Regions from separate parts of the Homo sapiens genome. Here region 2 is linked to region 1. A link means that fine-mapping ties the variant in region 1 to the expression of a gene that starts in the linked region. Tissue or cell type: skeletal muscle. Region 1 holds a variant in brackets; the other region holds the start of a gene. All regions are shown on one strand. Distances are from middle to middle.

Region 1 (5,328 bases):
TGGGGCTCCATGGTTGCAGAGGACAGGAAGAAGCTGGTTGTGATAAGGGAATGAATCCTCAAAATCCCCTCTAGCAATTAACTCTGGAGGAAAAATAATCTGGGTCTCATTTTGCTTTAAGCATAACTCTTACTATTGAAAGCAGTCCTCCTGCAGTAATTACATCAATTTAGTAAAAAAGGAGGACCATCTTCTTCTGCATGCGAGTCTAGGTGATACCTACCTGTTGCTGGAACAGTTTCATTGGTGAGATCTTTAATAGTAATACTAGTATCTTAAAACACATTGTGGCAATGATTAGATTTATCTATACCTCATTTCCGTGAAGTTGGCAGAATGAAAGGAGGATAATGTTTTTATAGTAGAAAGCAGTAAAACAGACAACTTGGGAATAAAAATGATTGCTCATGTTTCAAGCTGGCCAGCAAGAAGTGACGATCTAAATATAAGAGTAGCTCTGGTTATTTAACTATAACTACAAGTTACTTAGGGAAAAAAAGTCATCCTCAAGGGCCCCTTCCAAGCAATTAAAGTTTGTCTTTGCAATGTGCTAGTGGGGCATCCTCTTTGGTACTGTATATAACATAGCTCTGTAGTATGTTATCCAGATTATTTTCTATTAGCATATCTATCAGGGTTAACTTCATTGCAGCTAGCAGGAAAAATAATGCAAACTGTTTTAAGATTGTTTTAAAAAATAATGTATTGGCTCCTGTAATGAAAAAGCAGAGATCATCTCATCAAGATTACTTAATCAGAGACTCAAGGAGTGCTATCTGGACCCAGTTTCCCTAAGTCTCTGAAAACTACTTTCCTGGGTGTTGGTTCTTTCCAGGTTATATATTGTATTAGTTTCCTAGGGCTGCTCTAACAAACTATCACAATAGAATGTACCCTCCACAGTTCTGGAGGTGAGAAGGGCGAAATCAAGCTGCTAGCAGGATGATGCTCCCTGGGAAGGCTCCAGAGGGGGAACTGTATCATACTTCCTCTCTTGCTTCTGATGGCACCTGTCAGTACTTTGGCATCCTTGGCTTTCAGCTGCACCACGCCAATACCTGACTCTTTGATCATGTGGTCTCTATCCTCTATCTCTGCATCTCTGAATTTCTCTCCTTGTAAGATGCCCAGTCATTGGACTTAGGGACCACCCAATCCAGTTATATTTTATCTTAATGGGATTACATCAGCAAACCCTATTTCTTTTCTTTTTATAACTTAAAGTTTTATTTTAGATTCAGGAGGAATATGTGCAGGTTTGTTACGTGGGTGTATCACATGATGGCGAGATTTGGGGTACAAATGATTCCATCACCCAGGTAGTGAGCATAATACTCAACAGTTAGTGTTTCAACTCTTCTCCCCAACCTCCCTCTTCCCTCTATTAGTCCCCAGTGTATGTTGCTGCCATCTTTATGTTCATGTGTACCCAATGTTTAGCTCCCACTTATAAGTGAGAATATGCAGTGTTTGGTTTTCTGCTTCTGCATTAATTCACTCAGGATAATGGCCTCCAGTTGCATCCATGTCACTGCAAAGGACATTATCTTGTTCTTTTTTATGGCTGTGTAGTATTCCATGATGTATATGTACCACATTTTCTTTATCCAATTGACCACTGATGGGCACTTAAGTTGATTTAGTATTTTTGCTATTGTGAATAATGCTGCAATGAATATACGAGTGCCATGTGTCTTTTTGGTACAATGATTTATTTACTTTTGAATATATACTCAGTAACGGGATTGCAGAGTCAAATGGTAGTTCTGTTTTAAGTTCTCTGAGAAATCTCCAAACTGCTTTCCATAGGCTAGACTAATTTACATCCCCACCAACTGTATATAGGCATTCCCTTTTCTCTGCAGCAGCTCCAGAATGTGGTTGTGTTTTTTTTGACTTTCTGATAATAGCCATTCTGACTGGTGTGAGATGATAGCATATTGTGGTTTTGATTTGCATTTCTCTGATGATTAGTGATGTTGAGCATTTTTTCGTATGTTTGTTGGCCACTTGTATGTCTTCTTTTGAGAAGTGTCTGTTCATGTCTTTTGCCCACTTCTTAATGGGGTTCTTTTTTGTTTTTTGAAATATAATTTTTACAGATTCTGTATATTAGTAATATGTTGAATACATAGTTGGTGAATATTTTCTCCCATTCTTTAGATTCTCTGTTTACTCTGTTGATAGTTCATTTTCCTGTGCTCCAGCTCTTTAGTTTAATTAGGTCCCACTTGTCAATTTTTGTTTTTGTTGCAATTCCTTTTGAGAACTTAGTTATAACTTTTTTCTCAAGGCCAATTTTTTCTCAATGTCAAGAATGATATTTTCTAGGTTTTCTTATAGGATTTTTATAGTGTGAGGTCTTATATCGAAATTTTTAATCCATCTTGAGTTAATTTTTGTCTATAGTATTAGATAGTGCTCCAGTTTCATTCTTCTGCATATGACCTACTAGCTATCCCAGCACCATTTATTGAATAGGGAATCCTTTCCCCATTATTTATTTTTGTTGATTTTGTTGAAGATCAGCTGGCTGTAAGTGTACAGCTTTATTGCTGGGTTCTCTATTCTGTTTCATTTTTGTATCTGTTTTTTGTACCAGTACCATGCTGTTTTGTCTACTGTAGCCTTACTGTATAGTTTGAAGTCAAGT[A/C]ATGTGATGCTTCCAGCTTTGTTCTTTTTGTTTAGAATTGCTTTGGCTATTCAGGCTCCATTTTGGTTCCATATGAATTTTAGAACAGTTTTTTCTAATTCTGTAAAAAATGACATTGGTAGTTTGATAGGAATAGTATTGAATGTATACATTGCTTTGGGTAGTATGGCCATTTTAACAATATTGATTCTTCCAATTCTTGAGCATGGAATGTTTCCCCATTTGTTTCTGTCATCTATGATTTCTTTCAGCAGTGTTTTGTAGTTCTCCTTGTGGAAGTCTTTCACTTCTTTGGTTAAATGTATTCCTAGGTATTTTATTTTTTGTGTAGCTATTGTAAATGGGATTGCATTCTTGATTTGTCTCTCAGATTGAATGCTATTGCTGCATAGATATGCTACTGAGTTTTGTACCTTTATTTTATATCCTGAAACTTTATTGAAGTCGTTTATCAGTCCCAGGAGGCTTTTGGTGGAGTCTTTGAGTTTTCTAGGTATAAGATTATATCGTCAGTGAAGAGAGACCATTTGGCTTCTTATTTTGCTATTTGGATGCCTTTTATTTCTTTCTCTTGCCTGATTGCTCTGGCAAGGACTTCCAGTACTATGTTGAATAGGAGTGGTGAGAGTGGGCGTCCTTGTCTTGTTCCAGTTCCAGTTCTAGTTCTAGCATTCAAGGAGATGCTTCCAGCTTTTGCCTGTTTAGTGTGATGTTGGCTGTGGGTTTGGCATAGATGGCTCTTATTATTTTGAGGTATGTTCCTTCAATGCCTAGTTTGTTCAGAGTTTTTATCATGAAGGAAGGTTGGATTTTATCAAAGTCTTTTCCTCCCAAACCCCTATTTCCAGATAAAGTTACATTCGTGGATACTGAGCATTAGGATTTCAACATTTGGTTTTGGAGGACACAATTCAACCTACAATATATCCAATAACAAAACGAATGACAGCAGTGCATTGCCTATATATTCCTAGGTTCAAAGTCAGCAGAAAGAAGAGTATGTCTCTCTCCTAACCACTCAGGCAAAACCATGACCTGTCATTCACTGGCCCTAATGTGCTCATCCCTGAGCAGTCACCGTGACCAGAGGGATATGACACCGTGTTTGTCAGACATAAGTGCCCTGCCCAACACTGGAGCACCTAGGCCAAGCATGTAGGAAATGTAGGCTTTCCAGAAGAACATTAGAAATCATTACTAAAGAGTAATGGATACCGGATGGCCAAATAGTTCTTATACATCAAGACAATTTAAAATACGTCCAAGATAATATGATTAATAAAGTATAAATAAAGTAGATATAGCATAGACATGTGGTTACTCTTTACCCATGATGTATTATTTTTCTTTTATGTTTTGTTGAATCCCAGTTTTATTGAGGTATGATTGACTTACATTAATGTGCACATATGTAAAGTGTAAACTTGATGAGTTTTAACATATATGAAACCATTACCACATTCAAGATAATAACTATCTCTATCACCTGCAAAAGTTTTCTTACATCCTCTTGTAATCCACCCTCCCCTGCCCTGCCCATTCCTAGGAAGCTTAATCTGTTTTCTGTCCCTATAGATTAGTTTGCATTTTTAAGAATTTTATATAAATGGAATTATAAGTAGGTATTATTTTGCATCTAGGTTTTCTACTCAGCCTAGTTATTTTTGGTTCTATCCAAGTTGTTGTGTGTATAAATAGCTCATTCATTTTTATTGCTCAGTAGTATTCTATTGTATGGCTATACCACAGTTGGTTTGTTCATTCACGGTTTGTTTATCCATGGACATTTGGGTCATTTTCAGGTTTTAGATATTATAAAGAAAGATCTCAATTGGGAAACGCTTACTTAAAATTAGAATGTATTTTATTTAATTATGAATAAATTATGTGTAAGTGTAACGTTCGTTGCAATATTTATCTAAAATGCTGATAAAATTTTTTCCTTTTTCCTTTCCAGATACTGAGGAGAGCAGACAAAAATGGTAAGACCAAAAATCTACAGTATCTATTTATTAATCTCTTACATTTTATATTACCTTATAAATAATAATCAGGAAAAAGGGGACAGTCCGGGAAAATTACATATAAAATACTACCTTATTGTACTAGTGATCGTTTTAGATAAGTTTTAGGCCCTAAATATTCATAAGAAGTTGGCAGAAGGATTTACATTTGAAAGGAATGTTTATGCCTTTGAAGTGAGGAGCTCTGCCATATTTGGACTCTGGCTTTTCCTTTTCATGCACCAAAAAATAATTTTGCAGCAATAGCAGCTTCTATTCATTGAGTGTCTACTGTGTGCCAGGCATTGGGCCAAGTGCTTTGTGCATATTATGTCCTAGAATTATTACAATACAAAGCTGAGACTGGACCCCAGGTCTGTATGACACGCAAGTCTGGACTCTCCACACTGAGCTTTAACATGGCTTTGGAGATTTTACTGTACTCCAAGAGGTCTGCCTGGAAACCTGCATTGCTAGCTTTATCTCTACCCCATTGTTCCTGGCCACTGCTTTCCTATTTGAAGTGTATGCCCTGGAAATGATAATCTATAGCAACAGAGAAGTAGGAGATGGCAACCTCGAAGTAAAAACTTGCTCTGTTGATTTAATGATGACTGCACAACATCTAAGTTGTCATAAGCAGTATCTTTCGACTCTATTATTCCACTAGAA
Region 2 (5,328 bases), 450 kb after region 1:
AGTTAATGAGAAGCTAGTGAGTAGAAGGTGGGAAGGGGAGCAGAGAAGGACTGCATTGCTTCCACTAATGAGTTTAAGTTTGATATTGGAGATAACTGAAATTCAAACATATCAGTGATGTAATCAAAATGAGATTTTACAAAAAATCTTTCTGTTAATCCATGTATGAAGTAGAAGATAACAATTTCATCTTTTTATTTGTATAGGTATTATCCCAGATGTTTAGGAAGAGATATTCCATATAGATGGTACATACTGTTGAACTGTAAGCTACTTTTAGTCATTGAAACTTTTGAATGAATACACTTAGCATTCTTGAATTTTGCAGGCTGTTCAAGTTACTCTGAGAATCTTATGTGTGTGAATAAATTTCCTCATAATGTTTTTCTTTCTTTCTGGCATTGCTGATTATAAATAGGCATGATCCATGCTCTGGTTTGACATGTTTTAAATAATATGTATGCACATGGAAATTGAAAAAAAACATCTGGAATTGGAATTCCAGATTTAAGCTTCAAAAAAGATTTTTAGGAAAGATTCATTCTAATTTTAAGAAATTTTTAAATTGAGAGATTTCAGAACTATTTTGTTAATTTCTACCCTCTCTTGGTCTTGAAATGTTTTAGAACAATTGCTGGTGCTATATGATTTAGGTACTTCTATTTACCTTCAATTCATAAAATCCTGTTCATGTGAATTTTTTGTTATGGAATTTAACACAAATTTAAAAATGATTGAAATTACACAAATGATAGATGTTGATTGGTGATTTCAGTTAAGCTTTCAATTATTTTTCTCATATTGTTAACATACGTTAGAATTTATGACCTAGATAGGATTTGAAAAAAAATCTTGTGTTTATTTTTATTATAAAGGTAATACATAATCAGTGTATGTATAGCTTCTGAATTTCTTTGCGTATATAATAAATGGAGTATATAAAACAAAAGTAAAGATTGCTTTTTGTGAAGGAAAACCAATGTAATGTTTCAAGCATGAATTTACAATTATTTGGTGAGTTCATCTCTCATACCAAGAGGATAGGATTAAAATGCTACAACTTGGTCTCTAAATGGGGCTCTCTCTACAGGCCCCAAACCTGAACTATTGAATGGTTTAGAAATTTAATATAATGTAAAAACAGTTGGACAAACAAAGCAGTTTCTATTTTGTAAGTATAAATAAATTCCCCCCCACCCCGCTGCGTCTCTTCGTTGGATTTAAAAAGAAAGGTATTTTTGCACAGACACAAAGCTAGAGATGTCATCTTTAGAAGATGGAGAGCAACTCTTCACTTTAATTTAAAAACAAAGGGAAAAAGTGCAGCAGGAGGGATCCAAGTACTTTGTTATTATAAAGGCTTCCAGAAATCAGATTTCTATTCTCCAAACAAATGGGCATTAAAAAGGACTCAGCAAACTATATACATGGTATTCTTTTCCTTGGCTACACAATTTTAGTTAGTATGTTGCCTTTTTGGTTTAATTCCAATGGCACAGTTCATAGATTTAAGTTTTTCTTTTTCTTTTGGAGGCTAAGCAAAATGATCATAAAATAAAAATCTTTGACAGTCTGTTCTATTATAAAATGTAACACCCCTTATTAAAAAGAGAACACCTACCCCCAAAAGTTATACAAAAAGAAGGCAGCACCATAAAAAAAGCTAAGGATACTTCAAACAATAGTTTGAACCATATAACATTCCTCAGTAAATTTCAGTTACAGTAGAATGAATTATAGGACTTAGAGAAACCATCAGAGAAAACTGAATGAACAGTTTCAGAGACAGGGAAGATCTCCTGTCACAAATATGTGCTCATTGTGATACTTATTCTCTTAGCCCATGAGATGAAATTTCAGTTTGTTTATGAGAACTAGTTACTCCTTTCCCAGACTGGGCAGTAGCTATCTGAATGTTTCTGTATGAATGAAAACCTCATCTGCCAGGGAATAAAAATGGTAAGGACCTTTAGCAATGCCCTGTTATGTTTCTGAATTTTGTAGAACTGGCAGTCATCTGATAATGTTGAAAATATATAGCTCTCAAAGAAATAGGGCTGGATTCTCTGAATATATTTTGCACAATAGATCCCTCTGGCAGTTTTATGATTTTGCACAGCTTGTAGAGAGAGACTGGACTAGCTGGATATTTCCTGGTTTCATTAGCATAGCCCAGCCCACTTCCAACACACGCCCAGAACTACCTCATTAACCATTGGGATTGCAGCCAAAAACATAAGACTACAGTGAATATAAGGGGAATTACTGGCGAGAGAGCTGTAGACCAACTTAACACTGAACCCATTACTTTTCCAAGACCAGAAAAAAATATTACATGAACAGGAACTACTTCTCCTTCAGATAAGAATTCAAGGTTTTAATCTATAGTTTTTAAATCTAGAATAATTAGCTGTATCATAAAAAGACAGCTGCATATATTGAAGTGCTTCTGTTAATCTCTCTCTCTCTCTCTCTTTTATTTACTTATTTTCTGGGCAGCTTTGACATTGTAAACCACAGACGAATTGGAGCTTGGCATTGAAAGGAGGTGTTCTGCAATGATTTTTTTTCTTGTTTAGAGAAGTTTACTTCTACAAGAAGAAATCTGAAAAATGACAGGAGCAAAGAGGAAAAAGAAAAGCATGCTTTGGAGCAAGATGCATACCCCCCAGTGTGAAGACATTATACAGTGGTGTAGAAGGCGACTGCCCATTTTGGATTGGGCACCACATTACAATCTGAAAGAAAACTTGCTTCCAGACACTGTGTCTGGGATAATGTTGGCAGTTCAACAGGTGACCCAAGGTAATGTATTGCATTTGAGTTTCCTGTATTATGCAGAGTAGATGTCACTTTGCTTCCTTGGAATAATACTATGACCTAGAATAAACAATTTAGCTAAATAAATGGATATTAGCTGTGGGGAAACAAGCATATTGGATATATTTGGAGAAGAGTTTTCCTAATTGTCTTTTTTCCTCTGTATTTTGATAGCTATTAAGCATTGAATAAACTTTTGAATGACATTACATTTTTTCACTGTTAAAATTCACACTGTTTTAGAGTGAAAGATTAGTAATTATGGGAGTGTGAGTTTTTATAACATGATCTTATGGATATAGTTGCCTACTTTCACTGAATCAAGCTATAAAATACTCCTGGCTTGAACACAATCGTTTTGGAACCTAATTAGCAGCACACAATTACCTGTTGTAGCCTTGAGAGTTGCTATAAACAAGGAACAAAGCTTTCTGTACATAAAGGAGGCTCTTTGCCAAGATTGGTATTTGCAAAGAGAATCCTGTGTGTCCTGAGAGCTTATGTTTTACTGTCTATGCTGATTTACTTCTGTATCACATTACCTACTACATCTATTTCTCAGTAAGATATTTAAACTGGTGAGAAGTCTGATTTTAACTTTCCCCAAAACAGACTAAATGATATTCTGGATTTAGATAGGTGTTTCTATTGGCAAAAGCTACCGACCTAGTGTGCATGTGTGTGTATTTGTTTGCCTTAAAGATATATCCATTGCAGTTCTTGGCTAATTCAAATAATTTTCTACCTGTAGCAAGGAAAGGAACTAATTTCTGAACCTTGAGAATTTAGAGCAGTTTCCTTGGCATAGACACTGCAGGCTTATATTTCCTTGCAGTTTCACTACCTCCTTGGCTTTAACTATTATTTACACTGTTAAATTATAAGCACTCTTTTAATTAAATTATTCTGTAGCTGGAACAAACTGGTTTGTGTATTTGTGTTTTTGGTATAATTAGGAACATCTGCACTAGTGACTTTAAGATCCATAATACTGTCATACTTTATAGGATTCCATTTTACTGAATAGTCTTATATTTTTAATGACCATTTTGCCAATAGAAATGCATAGTAATCTTTCAGAAAAATGCAAAGTAAATAACAGCTTTGGGCATTTTTGGACTTGCTTTTATTCAGTTTTAAATTCCAAATGAAACAATACCAATGTACTTTGAAAACTTAAGTGATGAATTTTTTTTTTAACCAGATAGTTTCAGCATGCTATAAATTTATTTTGCTTTAATTTAATGTAAAATGAAAGAGAATTATGTTTTTAAAAATAATTTCTTTTTTTACCTTTGGAAAATATCAAGTTAATAAGACAATTTGAGGATAAGATAAAGTTATCTATGGTGTATCATTAGTGATACTATTTATGTATAAGTTTCAGTAGTTAATTATATGGCTTTTATTTGGGTATAGATTTTGAGGGATTTTGTTTTACGAGTCATGTATTTCACTGGTTATGAAGGGACACATTGGCCAGCCCCAAGACTGATGAGAAGCACAACACATACTCAGCCCTTGTGTCTTGGGAAGTTATGAATCTGGCTGCTGATTCTCTTGGAAGGCTACCAGTGAATGGATAAGGCTGCACTACAAAAACGTTTTTGTTTGTGAAATTTAAGACTAATTATTTTTAAAATGTCTATTCTTTTAAAAACAATTTTCTCAAACTTTTTCATGCTCATCTACTACGTATAGACAGTTAAAAAGTGAAATGCCATAAGCTACCATTTGTTGTAAGAGGCAATGCCCTAAACCCTTACATACATTATCTCCCCCTATCCTAACAGAATCCCAAGACACAGCAGTCTCCTCTCCATTTTCCACAGGAGAAAATGGAGGTTTAGAAGAGTTAGAAATTTTCCCTGGACGTCATACCTGATAAGTAGTGGAGTCAGGACTTGATTCCAAAGCCAACACTCAACATTTTCACTTTATAGTCTACACTGCCAAAATAACAAGACTTTTCATAACACCAATGTTATTAGTAATAGAAGACATTTCTTTGGAAAGGTGTGACTATCCTTCCCTTCAAATTGCTTTTGCATTCAGGTTTCATCCCTGCAGTTTTTAGATTCAAAGGCAAAGTGACAAGAAAAATAACTAGAATAGGATACAGAGTAAGGAAGGCATTTAGATATCATTACCTCTTGTTTGTCTGAATACAATATTGGCAATTATTATCAGCTCAATTTTCTAAGGAAAATTAGAAGAAAGAGGGATAATTTTTGTTCTTGCATCATAACGCAAACAATAGGCTCAAGCACCTTTTTTTAGCTTTACCCATTTTTGTAGCAGCTTTTCAGTTACTCAGCATAGTTGAATTATATAAAATTGTCCAATTTACTGTTTCTTGACCTACAAAGATAGAATGTTTATGTTTCAATCTAGTAGTTGTTTTTCGTTCTTCTTTCTCAAGGAGTGCATTTAAATTAAGGATAATGGAAATTCATTTGAGTGTTTTCTATATGTCAAATAGCAAGAAGCTGTTTTAAATTATTTTAA

Alleles and levels. Positions count from the first base shown, and alleles are read on the strand shown. Sizes are in standard deviations (SD) of each study's normalised expression.
For the expression in skeletal muscle of the gene that starts at base 2,280 in region 2, allele C in region 1 goes with a higher level than allele A (large effect, 2.4 SD a copy in FUSION).

Evidence for each region. PIP is the estimated chance that this variant, and not a neighbour inherited with it, causes the effect.
Region 2: it holds the start of SLC26A7, and the variant in region 1 is fine-mapped to the expression of SLC26A7 in skeletal muscle (FUSION, PIP 0.91).

Annotation. Positions count from the first base shown.
Region 1 is chr8:90,797,081-90,802,408 of GRCh38, forward strand. NECAB1 (N-terminal EF-hand calcium binding protein 1) reads left to right here. Exons shown (of 13, transcript NM_022351.5): 2 at 4,611-4,635. Among named protein-coding and RNA genes, the nearest start is that of NECAB1, 8.0 kb to the left of the region's middle. The variant A/C (reference allele first, on the strand shown) is at 2,654.
Region 2 is chr8:91,247,040-91,252,367 of GRCh38, forward strand. It overlaps SLC26A7 (solute carrier family 26 member 7), which reads left to right and starts at 2,280. Exons shown (of 19, transcript NM_052832.4): 1 at 2,280-2,374; 2 at 2,500-2,805. The coding sequence starts at 2,613.